Linked DNA regions of Homo sapiens. The protein of the gene in region 1 purifies or fractionates together with the protein of each later gene. This does not show direct contact. Each region holds a gene or a part of one and is shown in the gene's direction. Other genes may lie near its edges.

Region 1 (3,823 bases):
TAATAGAGACAGGGTTTCACTATGTTGGCCAGGCTGGTCTCGAACCCCTGACCTCGTGATCCACCCGCCTCAGCCTCTCAAAGTGTTGGGAATACAGGCGTGAGCCACCGTGCCCGGCCGTGTCTGTGTGTTTCTTTTAATGACCACTATACTTCCAGTCTTCCAGGCTCAACCGTTTAGCATAGTCACGTTTTCCTCCTTCACTTCCTAAATTTATCCACAGCAGAACCCTAGACTTTGCCTCTAGAATGTTTTTAATCCACCCTCCCTTGTTATTCCCTCTGCCCTATCACCTAGCCTACTGACATTGACTCTACCTGTCTGCCTACATCCCATCTCCCTCTGGTTTAATCCATCCTTTACCTCCTTTACATCACTGCCAAAATAATGTTTACTAAGGCAGGGTTACCATCGTATCCCTTATTTTAAAACCTTCACTCCCTTATTTAAAAACCTTCAATGTCTTCTTGGTTTCCTACCAAACCAAGGATAAACTCTTCCCCTTGGCATTCAAACTTCCACATGGAATGTCTCCAAACTACCTTTCCAGTATTAATTTCAACTATTCTTCCACATGCACTGGCCAACATGGACTACACTGTACCCACATGCACCCTAAGCACCCCATTTCCATAGCTTTACTCATGCTACCTCTTTTTGGTAGAAACACTGTCTCCTTCCTCCCCCTTCACCAACCCAATGTCCTCCTTCCTTCAAGGTCTGCCTGAAATGTCCCGATGCCTGGGCCATCCCCTGAATTCTTCCTATTACCCCATCGCTCCTCTCAACCCCCATAAACGCTTGTTTTATTTCTCTCTGACGTCTCTTATCTAACCATAGTACCTAGTCATTGCATATTTGTTCTAATATCTCCCCCAAATTGCACATGGTTTGAAGGCAAGACCTCTATCTCTATTTCATCTTTCTTTTCTCTTTTTTTTTTTTTTTTTTTTTAGACAGAGTCTCGCTCTGTCACCCGTCACTCAGGCTGGAGTGTAGTGGCGCCATCTCAGCTCACTGCAAGCTCCGCCTCCCGGGTTCATGCCATTCTCCTCCCTCAGCCTCCGGAGTAGCTGGGACTACAGGCGCCCGCCACCACACCCGGCTTTTTTTTGTATTTTTAGTAGAGACGGGGTTTCACCATGTTAGCCAGGATGGTCTCGATCTCCTGACCTCGTGATCTGCCCGCCTCAGCCTCCCAAAATGCTGGGATTACAGGCGTGAGCCACCGCGCCCAGCCTTTTTTTTTTTTTTTTTTTTTTTTTTTTTTTGAGACGGAGTTTCATTCTTGTCGTCTAGGCTGAAGTGCAATGGCACGATTTCGGCTCACTGCAACTTCCGCCTCCTGGGTTCAAACAGTTCTCCTGTCTCAACCTCCCGAGTAGCTGGGATTAGAGGTGCGCGCCACCAGTCCTGGCTAATTTTTGTACTTTTAGTAGAGACAGGATTTCACCATGTTGGTCAGGCTGGTCTCGAACTCCTGACCTCAGGTGAACCTCCCACCTCAGCCTCCCAAAGTGCTGGGATTACAGGTGTAAGCCACCATGCCTGGCCCTCTATTTCATCTTTCTAGCCAAGCGGTGCCACTCAAGTATTCCATACATGTCGAAGAAATCAAGGGGAGGGCACTGTTGTGACTTATCCATCACTATATCCCCAGCACCCCACAGAGAGGTGTTAGCAAACATTCTCTGAATGAATAAAATCAACGGAATCTCAAGGTCGGTGCCTGAAAGACACAAGCCCCAGTCTCCCAAGAACCCAGCACCCCGGCCCTGCAGCCGCACCCACGATCTGGGGCTCCCTGAAGCGGCCCAGCCGCCCCGAAGCCTCCCTCACTGCTTGCTCATTCTGCTGGGCCAAGTGAAGCAGGGCGTCTTCAATCGTCTCTGTGGCGACAACTCCAAACTGAAAGTCAACGAGGGAGGCCGATCGTGGCCTCATGGGTCCGTCCATATTCACGAGCCTCTTGGGGCACCTGGACGGGTTCACTGGATCCACATACCGACCCCCTTAGCTCCTCTCCAGTCTTCTGCCACACCCTGGATTCCTCGTCCCCTTCCAATGAGTGTGTCGTCGCCTCAAGTCTGAGGAAAACCCAATTACCACCACAGCCTCGAACCCTCCACAGCTTTTTCCCGCCCCAACGGCCACGGACTCCTCAGCCAATCAGAAAGCACGTCCGCTTCTCACCTCCCGCGTCCATCCCCTGTGCCCGGGAACCGCGGCTCTGCCCCGCAAAGGGCACGCGGACTACAACTCCCAGAGTCCACTGCAGCGGCCAAGGGCTACTGTTCCCAGCGAGGCCCGCGCGGCGGCACCGCGAAGGGAGGAGTGGCAACATGGCGTCTTCGGGAGCTGGTGACCCTCTGGATTCTAAGCGTGGAGAGGCCCCGTTCGCTCAGCGTATCGACCCGACTCGGGAGAAGCTGACACCCGAGCAACTGCATTCCATGCGGCAGGCGGAGCTTGCCCAGTGGCAGAAGGTCCTACCACGGCGGCGAACCCGGAACATCGTGACCGGCCTAGGCATCGGGGCCCTGGTGTTGGCTATTTGTATCCGTCCGTGTTGTAGACTCAAGGGGACCGCATATAGGGGCAGGGGAACAGAGTGTGCAAGAGGGCTGAACCACCCGTTTAATTTTGGGGTAAAATGGGTAGTACTTTCCTTTGTTATTCCTAAGGTACTCTTTTAATTTGATTTATTAATAATAACGGAATTGGGGTTCAGGGTTTAGAAACAGCAGCGGCGGGAAGCCGGAATCACTGATTTGGGAGAGTAACAAGAGTGGTAGAGCAAATCTAGGAAAGGGGAATGTGCATATTCTGTGTGGTTTCCTGAACCTACCTCCCCAGATGGTTACACCTTCTACTCGATTTCCCAGGAGCGTTTCCTAGATGAGCTAGAAGACGAGGCCAAAGCTGCCCGAGCCCGAGCTCTGGCAAGGGCGTCAGGGTCCTAATCTGGATGGGTATTGATCATGTCCAACCTGCTGGAGCCCCTTCACATGGTGGATGATGCCCCATGACCCTGTAGAAATTGAATCCTGCTCACAACATTGTTGGCCTTCTTACTAACCTTGGACCGTGATTGAGCCCAAGAAACCAGGGACTTACGCATTTGGCCAATGTCAAAAGAACAGAACTTTGCCCACTGCACACTTGCTGTGTACAATGACTGAGCCCTTTCTTGTAGTTTGTTTCCTTGTTTGAGAGGTGTGCATGCGACCGTGGCTTTTCCCAAAGTTTCTGACTTTGTGGTTTACCCCCTTCACCTTCCAGGGACGCAGTTGTTACGAGGTTAGACGTGGCAGCTCTGTGCAGTGTTTGAGCCTACAGTGGGATACATAGGGTCAAATTGAGAATAATAAACTGAGTCATTCTCCTGGAGTCAAGTGAGTATGGAGGCTGAGAGGCAGCATATGGCACTTCATGCTGGAAAGCTTCACAAGCAGTAGCTGCAGTGGTGGCATTGCCCCAGGGAGCTGTAAATGTTTAACTAGAATTACTTTTTCCATGAGATCTTTCCACCTGATTTAAGGGAGAGATCACTGGGCAGTTTGAGACTGAACCCACGTCTTAGGGGAAGGAAGGTCACTCTTCTGTCCTCTACCCACAAGAACATACTGTAACTCTACTGCTTTTCCCATCCCCAGAGAGAGGGAGGGAGAGAGAGGTGGATGAAGGGTGAAAGACAAGCAGTCTTCATTCTTTTAACTTTCCCTGGTACCTGCCTATACAGGTCTAGGGTGGGGTCTGGAGGGGATCCTAACTTAGTCAAGTGGATCACTGACCTTGCAGTTTCCTCATTAACTGATGGCAG
Region 2 (3,600 bases), on another chromosome or scaffold:
TTGAGACAAGCCTGGGCAATACAGTAAGACCCCATCTCTGAAAAAAAAAAAAGTCAGTGTTCTTTTAATTACACCATGCAACCTTGAAACTAGAACTGAGAACATGAGGCAGTGTTTAACTTAGAGATTTTAAATTATATAATTGGCAGTGTTATACAGGAGTAAGCAGGTTGCTGATGACAGTCAGGATCTGTTGATCCGAACAAGGAAAGTATGTTAGTATCCATATTGGTCCCAAAATCAAGTATTAGCAAATTGTGTTAAGTGAACATAGGATAAGGCCAAGAAATATGACAGTGTAGCGTTACTACTAAGCTTCTCCGATGAAATTCAAGGTTTTTTTCTCTCTTCCAATTCAATTTGTTAGGCGACACTTCAGTAAACAGTAGGGGCAAGATAGAGTGGAAACAGCCAAGATTTCAAGCCTAGTAATAAGCAACTTCTACATCCCTACTCATCACAGGCCTTTTTGTCTATCCCAGAAACACATACTTTTCCTGAAAAAACAAAGCACTGGAAGGATTACCAAGTCTAGAAAGAACCCGCCCTCCCCAAACTAGGTGGTTTTCTGATAAGCCTAAGGTATGTTTCACAGGATCACTGGTTGCCATCTCCTACCCAGCAATCTGGAGAGGTTGACCAGAATAAAGTATTTTAAAATCCAAGCGCTTAGTCTAACCTGGAATTTCCTCAGTTTCTAGATGGCTCTTTGTAGAACAATGCAGATTCTCAAAGGTGACCACAGTTAAAGAAAAAATTACAAGCCATTGCGCTAGAGAGAGCCATCTGCAGTTTCTCCTTAGACAGATGTTCAGATGGCACACATGGCCACTAAATTTGCATAATATTTCAGGAAGTTCACAGATTTCCCGAAGCCCACTCATGAATCACACTTCTGGTTAAGAACTCCTAGATTCATATGCTAGTTGGTGATAAGTGCTTTGGTATATAAACTTAAACCAAAAATTGGTGGAATAATTACCACCTTGGATAGGATGGTCAGAGAAGTTTTATCCGAAGAGGTCACTTTTGAGCAGAGACTTGAGCTGGTGCAGACACCTGAGTGTGCATTCCAGGAAACGCGAACAGCAGGCGCAAGGGTCCCTATGAGAGAATGTGCTTGGCGGGCTCGACGCACATTTATTTACTTGGGACACACCCTATTTTGGTTTCTCTTCTCCACTTTTCCCCTCGTTCTTGTCCCCCCTTTTCTCTCTCCTGGGCCCTGGATCTCCTGAGCGCGGAGGGCTACGCCTCCTTCTTCCTCCGGACTCACCAGGGCTGCCAGCTTAGCTTACATTTTCAGGGAACAGGAAACTGAGAGTCAGGAAAGGTGAGCTCTTCTACCTCGGGTCTTGCCATTTTGCATGTCCTGAGTCAGTCACTGGTTAACTCTGAACTTCAGGTTCCTCGGCAATTAGAGATTATAAATAGCCTATACAGCCTATTCCAGATCTGAGATTCCAACAGCCAAAGTCTTTTCACTTCCTTTCTTCCCCCTCTCCTTCACTTTCCCAGCTTTCTTCTTAACCAACAATCTACCCGAAACCGTCGTTTCTTGGTTAGCGCTTGCGCAGACAGGCGAGAAAGGTAAGTTTTGACCCAGCTTAGCAGCCGTAGTCAGCCGGGAGTGCTGTCGTGGGGGATTGTGGGAAAAGATGGCGGCTGCCGCACAATCCCGGGTTGTCCGGGTCCTGTCAATGTCACGTAAGTGTTACCGGGAACGGCGGCCCCTGGTCGGGATTCCGAGACGGGGATTTAAGGTTTTGGAAGTGGCACCGTGCTGCAGCGGTCACGCCAACTTCCTAGGCACACTCTGGTTTCTCTAGGTTTGGAGCTGCCTCAGTCTGGTTTCTCCTTTCGCTTTCCGCTTCCCCGGCTCACATATTCAATTGTGCACCACCTTGGGAGGGGACAAAAGATCTTAAGCAGCTGTAAGCGAAGAGGAGAATGCGGGGGACACGTTAGGGATCGAGAGAATCAGAATTCTGATATGGTTGTAAGGGTTTAGGGTTATGAGAAATATTTGTATGGGGCGGGGGGAGAAATGTGTAAGGGAGGGAAAAAAGGCTAGTGGCGAGAGGTTTTCTTAGATTGATTTTATGACCTTGTGCAAACCCTTAATGGGTCTCAATTCATATGAGCACAATGGAAATGATAATATTACAATACCAGGGAGTCTCTGATAAGATTAAATGAGCTAATATTTGTAAAAGCATCCTTTTACCCAAAAGCGTCTCTACGGATGTAGAATGTGTTCGGCAAAGTGCGTTGGGGTCTGGGGGAGAGAGTGATGTTTGAGGAGAGAAGAATCAGGAGCTTGGTGGAAAGGAAAGTGAAGAATGAAGGCTATGTTAGAATTTGTTAGCATTATTTAGTTTCTCTTCTGTTCTGATTGGATCTGCTCCCACTCCTCAAACTGAAAACATACATTTGTCCTTCCACTCACTAAAAAGCAAGGAAATTAGAAATACGGTTACACTTCATCATTGTCCTTTCACCCTCTACTCTTCCACAAACATATTCCAATCAAACCCCCAAAGTTGTATTTTTCTTAGTGTATTTTAGTCGTTACAGAATATCATTTGCTTTCAAAATTGGCTCATGTCAGAATCACTCGTAAAGCTTTATAAAAATTAGAAATGAGGACTGAGTGTAGAGCTATTGAGTCAGAATTTGTGAGATTAGCTCCTTGCACCTTAAATTTTTAAAAGCACCACAGATAGGCTTGATGTTCAGCCTGAGGCAAGAATTAGGAGTGTTTAGAGGATCCTTTTTTTTTTGTTTTCCATCTTGGGTAGAACTCCTGCATACCACTGGGAAGGTGGTGGTGCACATCACTTATAGTGGATGGTTTTGTAGTCACAATGTCTTTGCAAAGACATTTGCTGGTTCTTGTTAAACTATTACAATTGTATGACGTAATGTAGATTGTGAATGGTAATCACTATTTATTGAGTACCTGCTATCTGCAATCTCCAGTTCTAGGTATTTTTATTAATTTTCCTCTTTTAACTTACTTTCCTCTGACTGACACCATAGCTTGTGTTCTTAACCACTCTGCGTTATTGTCTGGTAAAGTAAGTTTTTGAGTAAATTCTGTAGAGGCAAGTCTAGTATGTAACATAATCCACACACTATAGGACAGAACTGTGTAAGACAACTATATATAGTTAAGTGTGGCAAGACTATTAAGTATCACAGGAAATCATAAAAGGGAAAGATTAGTATCATTTGAGGTACTGAGGGATGATTGGAAGACCAGTGGAGAATTGTAGTGCTCCCACTGGTCTCTTTAGGGCTGTTATGATCTGGAAAGTCCTCTGGCAAAGACAAGTGGGTGAGAATGGAGTCATGAGGTATTCAAGAGGCAGTGAAATGACTACCTGAATATCTGGGATAGTGGAAAAGGAGGTTGAATGTGTTAGATGGGATCAGACAATGGAGACCTTTGAAAGCCAAGCAGAGTTTAGATCGGTAGTCTCCAAAGGGAGTTGTGCAAGAGGACCTAATAAGTTGTGGAAATATAAATTAGAACTCCTAAAAATTGCTTTCTATAGTAATAATAGCTAACACTTATGTAGTTTAAACTGTATGCCA
Region 3 (3,823 bases), on another chromosome or scaffold:
ACCTCGCGGGCCCAAGTGATTCTCCTGCCTCAGGCTCCAGAGTAGCGTGCGCCACCACACCCAGCTAATTTTTGTATTTTTCGTAGAGACGGGGTTTCACCATGTTGGCCAGGATGGTCTCGAACTCCCGACCTCAGGTGATCTTCCCACCTCAGCCTCCCAAAGTGCTGGGATTACAGGCATGAGCCACCATACCTGGCCATGTTTCCTTTTCTCCTTTTTTTTAAAAAATTTTATTTTTGAGACGGAGTCTAGCTCTGTCACCCAGGCTGGAGTGCAGTGGTGTGATCTCGCCTCACCGCAACCTCCACCTCCTGGGTTCAAGTGATTTCTGGCTAATGTTAGTAATTTTAATAGAGATGGGGTTTCACCATGTTGGCCAGGCTGGTCTCAAACTCCTGACCTCAAGTGATCTCCTGGCCTTGGCGGCTCAAAGTGCTAGGATTACAGGCGTGAACCACCGTGCTCGGCCTTAATTTCTTTATGGCCAGCTGTTACATAGAAAGGCAAAGAGAAAGGTTAGAGCAATATTTTTAGGCTTTATGGCTGGCTTTGGGACAAAGGGGTTCTACTTTCTAGACCCCCTCTTGGGGAGGAGGGATTCTAGTTTCTGTGGCATGCCTGGAGGGAGAGTAAGGGGCAAGAGACAAGAGGGCAGAAGGTCAGAGAGAAACTGCTTCATAGGCCTTCACTTTGTGGTATTGTTTTCTAAGCCCCAGCACTAGGTTGGTGGGAAACGGTGAGGGCAGGTGCTTTGAAAACATTTTAAAAATCCTTTTCCCCGCCAGGTTCCTACCCACTGAAGCCACACTGCTAGGGAGGAAAAAGAGAAGGGCAGATGCTGAGGCCCTGGAGAGTCGGCCTGAAGTGAGGAAGTGGCACATGAATGGCCACCTTTTCTTTCCTCAGTGTGCCCAGGGATAGAGAATGGGAGACAGCAAGACAGAATACAATGTCTCATTAACTCTGGGCAGCATCCAGATACTTCAGGCCTGGGAGAGGTGTCCTTGACTGCCCAGGGGCTCAAAGTTAGGATGTAGCTAGTGAGATAAGATGCAACAACTGTGGAACTTGATCAACCCTATTTCAGAGCCATCGTGGATTCAGGAGCCCTCCTGTAGGAGATGGGAAACATTCAGGTGAGAGTCCTCAGAACTGGGGATGTGGCGAAAAGATCCTTGACTGCCAGCAGCAACCTAATTTCTGAGCCTCTTTCCTAATCTGTGAAATGAAGTAGTTTAACTCATTTTTTATGCAAGCTGGTTTGTGATATAAGAATATGTACTAATAAAATCCCTTACGCATAGGCCTTTTTTTTTTTTGAGATGGAGTTTTGATCTTGTTGCCCAGGCTGGAGTGCAATGGTGCGATCTCAACTCACTGCAACCTCTGCCTCCTGGGTTCCAGCAATTCTCCTGCCTCAGCCTCCCAAATAGCTGGGATTACAGGCATGCGCCACCACACCTGGCTAATTTTGCATTTTTAGTAGAGACAGGGGTTTCTCCATGTTGGTCAGGCTGGTCTCGAACTCCCGACCTCAGGTGATCCGCCCGCCTTGGGCTCCCAAAGTGCTAGGATTACAGGCGTGAGCAACCGCGTCCAGCGGCATTCTTTCCCCCATTCGCTGTTTTATTTTATGCCACAATGAGAAGGCGGGGCTAAGCAAAGTAGGTTTTTGTTTTGTTTGGTTTTTTTGAGACGGAGTTTCGCTCTTGTTGCCCAGGCTGGAGTGCAATGGCACCATCTCGGCTCACCGCAACCTCCTCCTCCTGGGTTCAAGCGATTCTCCTGCCTCAGCCTCCCGAGTAGCTGGGATTGCGGGCATGCGTTGCGCCACCACGCCTGGCTAATTTTGTATTTTTAGTAGAGACGGGGGTTCCTCCATGTTGCCCAGGCTGGTCTTGAACTCCCGACCGCAGGTGATCCGCCCGCCTCGGCCTCCCAAAAGTGCTGGGATTACAGGCATGAGCCACAGCGCCCGGGCGCAAAGTACGTATTTTTTATTATAGTTTGTTGTTATTGCTGTCATTCCTATTTTGAGGTGATTAAGTGCCCTCCTGGGCCTGACTCGAACAAGATCACGGTCGGTTGCTCCTCCCTCGCCTCCATTCCTACTTACAGGATGGCAGCTGCACGTCACCTGACCAGAGACAAGGCGGGACGCGAGGCTAACAGTTTGTCCTCAGCGCGCCGCCGTAGCCCCCGCCGCCGCCGGCCGCGCGGTGGCTCCTCCCGCCCACGCGCCAGAGTCGCAGTGGGCGGGCCTACGTGCTCCGCCCGCTGTGAGCCTGTCCGGCCCCCGCCCGCTCCGGAGCAACCCGCGAGCTTACACCGGCTTCTCTCTGTCCTCAGCCCGCGCGCCGCCATCGCCGTCATGCTGGGCGCCGCTCTCCGCCGCTGCGCTGTGGCCGCAACCACCCGGGCCGACCCTCGAGGCCTCCTGCACTCCGCCCGGACCCCCGGCCCCGCCGTGGGTAAGGCCCCTGCTTGCCACTGCCCGCGCCCTCGTGTCCTTGCGGTGACCTGGGTCCCCGCTGCCACTCCGGGGCGGGCTCTCCCCGGCCTAGCCCTTGCCCTACCCTGGTTACTGAACCCGGTGACCGCGGGCCGCCCTGCCCGCCGCCTCGAGTAGTGGAGGACCTGAAAGCGCGCCCCCGGGGCCTCCCCCCGCGCAACTTCCTGGCTGTGCCACCGCGGACAGGTCAGATGTGGACCTGCTGTGGGCGCCGAGGAGGGGACGCAGCGCTCCCCTTCGGTTCCCGGGCCATGACCCTGCCCCAGCGCCGACCCTGCGGCCACCTGACCGAGAGTGGCCGCCGCCGGCCTGCAGCGCCTCGGCGAAGGTGACATTGAGCCTCCGGGCACGCCGCTTGGGGTCCGAGGACACAATATACTTCCGTATGGGACACACGATTATACTTTTCAATCAGGCATTTCTCGGTTAGCGATTAGTGTGTCACCTTCACAGCCTTTTCCATCATTTTTAGGGTCTGCTGTGCCACGTTCTAATTCTTCCACGTTTAAAATAGATGGAAGTGTGTGGTTGTTTCCTGATCTCCGGAAGATAGCCAGAGTTTTGATAGGGCTTATGATAAAAATATCACTCTTTTGAAAACTGAATGTCACAGACACAGGAATACTGGGTTTTACAAGCATAGGAACGCTTCGTGTTTTTTCCCCTTTGTAATAGAAGCCTGATTGCTGGAGTATGAGACGTGCTTCTGATTTTTGTCTATTTTCCTTCCCTTTATATGTGTGCTGGGAGGTTTTGAGTCCACCACCATAGAATAATTACAGTAATTGCACTTCGATCTTGGTCCGTGAAATTTAGCTTCTATGCATGCATATTATATTTTATTTTTGAACCTGCATCACTGGCAACTATGCATGCGTATTTAAACATAAGAACTCAGAAACTCGTTTCAGGGTATGCTGAAGTTAAAAATTAAAAAAAGAACTCAGCCGGGCGCGGTGGCTCATGCCTGTAATCCCAGCACTTTGGTAGGCCGAGGCGGGCGGATCACCTGAGGTCAGGAGTTCAAGACCAGCCTGGCCAACATGGTGAAACCCTGTCTGTACTAAAAATACAAAAAATTTAGCTGGGTGTGGTGGTGGGCGCCTGTAATCCCAGCTACTCGGGAGGCTGAAGCACAAGAATCGCTTGAACCTGAGAGGCGGAGGTTGCAGTGAGCCGAAATCGCGCCATTGCACTCCAGCCTGGCCGACAGAGCGAGACTCCGTCTCAAAAAAAAAAAAAAAAAAAAAAGAATATGTTTTGCTTCATTCATTTTAGACTTTTATCATTTGTCGTAGAACCATAAGG

What was found.
Region 2: the proteins of COA3 (region 1) and NDUFA9 purify together in Homo sapiens (affinity purification with western blotting; 2 studies listed by BioGRID, with this or other methods). This does not show direct contact.
Region 3: the proteins of COA3 (region 1) and COX5A purify together in Homo sapiens (affinity purification with western blotting; 3 studies listed by BioGRID and IntAct, with this or other methods). This does not show direct contact.

What each region holds. Positions count from the first base shown.
Region 1 is NC_000017.11:42,797,201-42,801,023, reverse strand, and holds COA3 (cytochrome c oxidase assembly factor 3 homolog, mitochondrial), read left to right. Parts: upstream 1-2,319; 5' UTR 2,320-2,342; coding exon 2,343-2,556; intron 2,557-2,856; coding exon 2,857-2,963; 3' UTR 2,964-3,399; downstream 3,400-3,823. Other genes in the region: CNTD1 (cyclin N-terminal domain-containing protein 1), read right to left, coding at 1,788-1,956. UniProt on the Homo sapiens protein: Core component of the MITRAC (mitochondrial translation regulation assembly intermediate of cytochrome c oxidase complex) complex, that regulates cytochrome c oxidase assembly.
Region 2 is NC_000012.12:4,647,469-4,651,068, forward strand, and holds the start of NDUFA9 (NADH dehydrogenase [ubiquinone] 1 alpha subcomplex subunit 9, mitochondrial precursor), read left to right. Parts: upstream 1-1,645; 5' UTR 1,646-1,658; coding exon 1,659-1,707; intron 1,708-3,600. UniProt on the Homo sapiens protein: Accessory subunit of the mitochondrial membrane respiratory chain NADH dehydrogenase (Complex I), that is believed not to be involved in catalysis. Required for proper complex I assembly.
Region 3 is NC_000015.10:74,936,566-74,940,388, reverse strand, and holds the start of COX5A (cytochrome c oxidase subunit 5A, mitochondrial precursor), read left to right. Parts: upstream 1-2,315; 5' UTR 2,316-2,374; coding exon 2,375-2,474; intron 2,475-3,823. UniProt on the Homo sapiens protein: Component of the cytochrome c oxidase, the last enzyme in the mitochondrial electron transport chain which drives oxidative phosphorylation.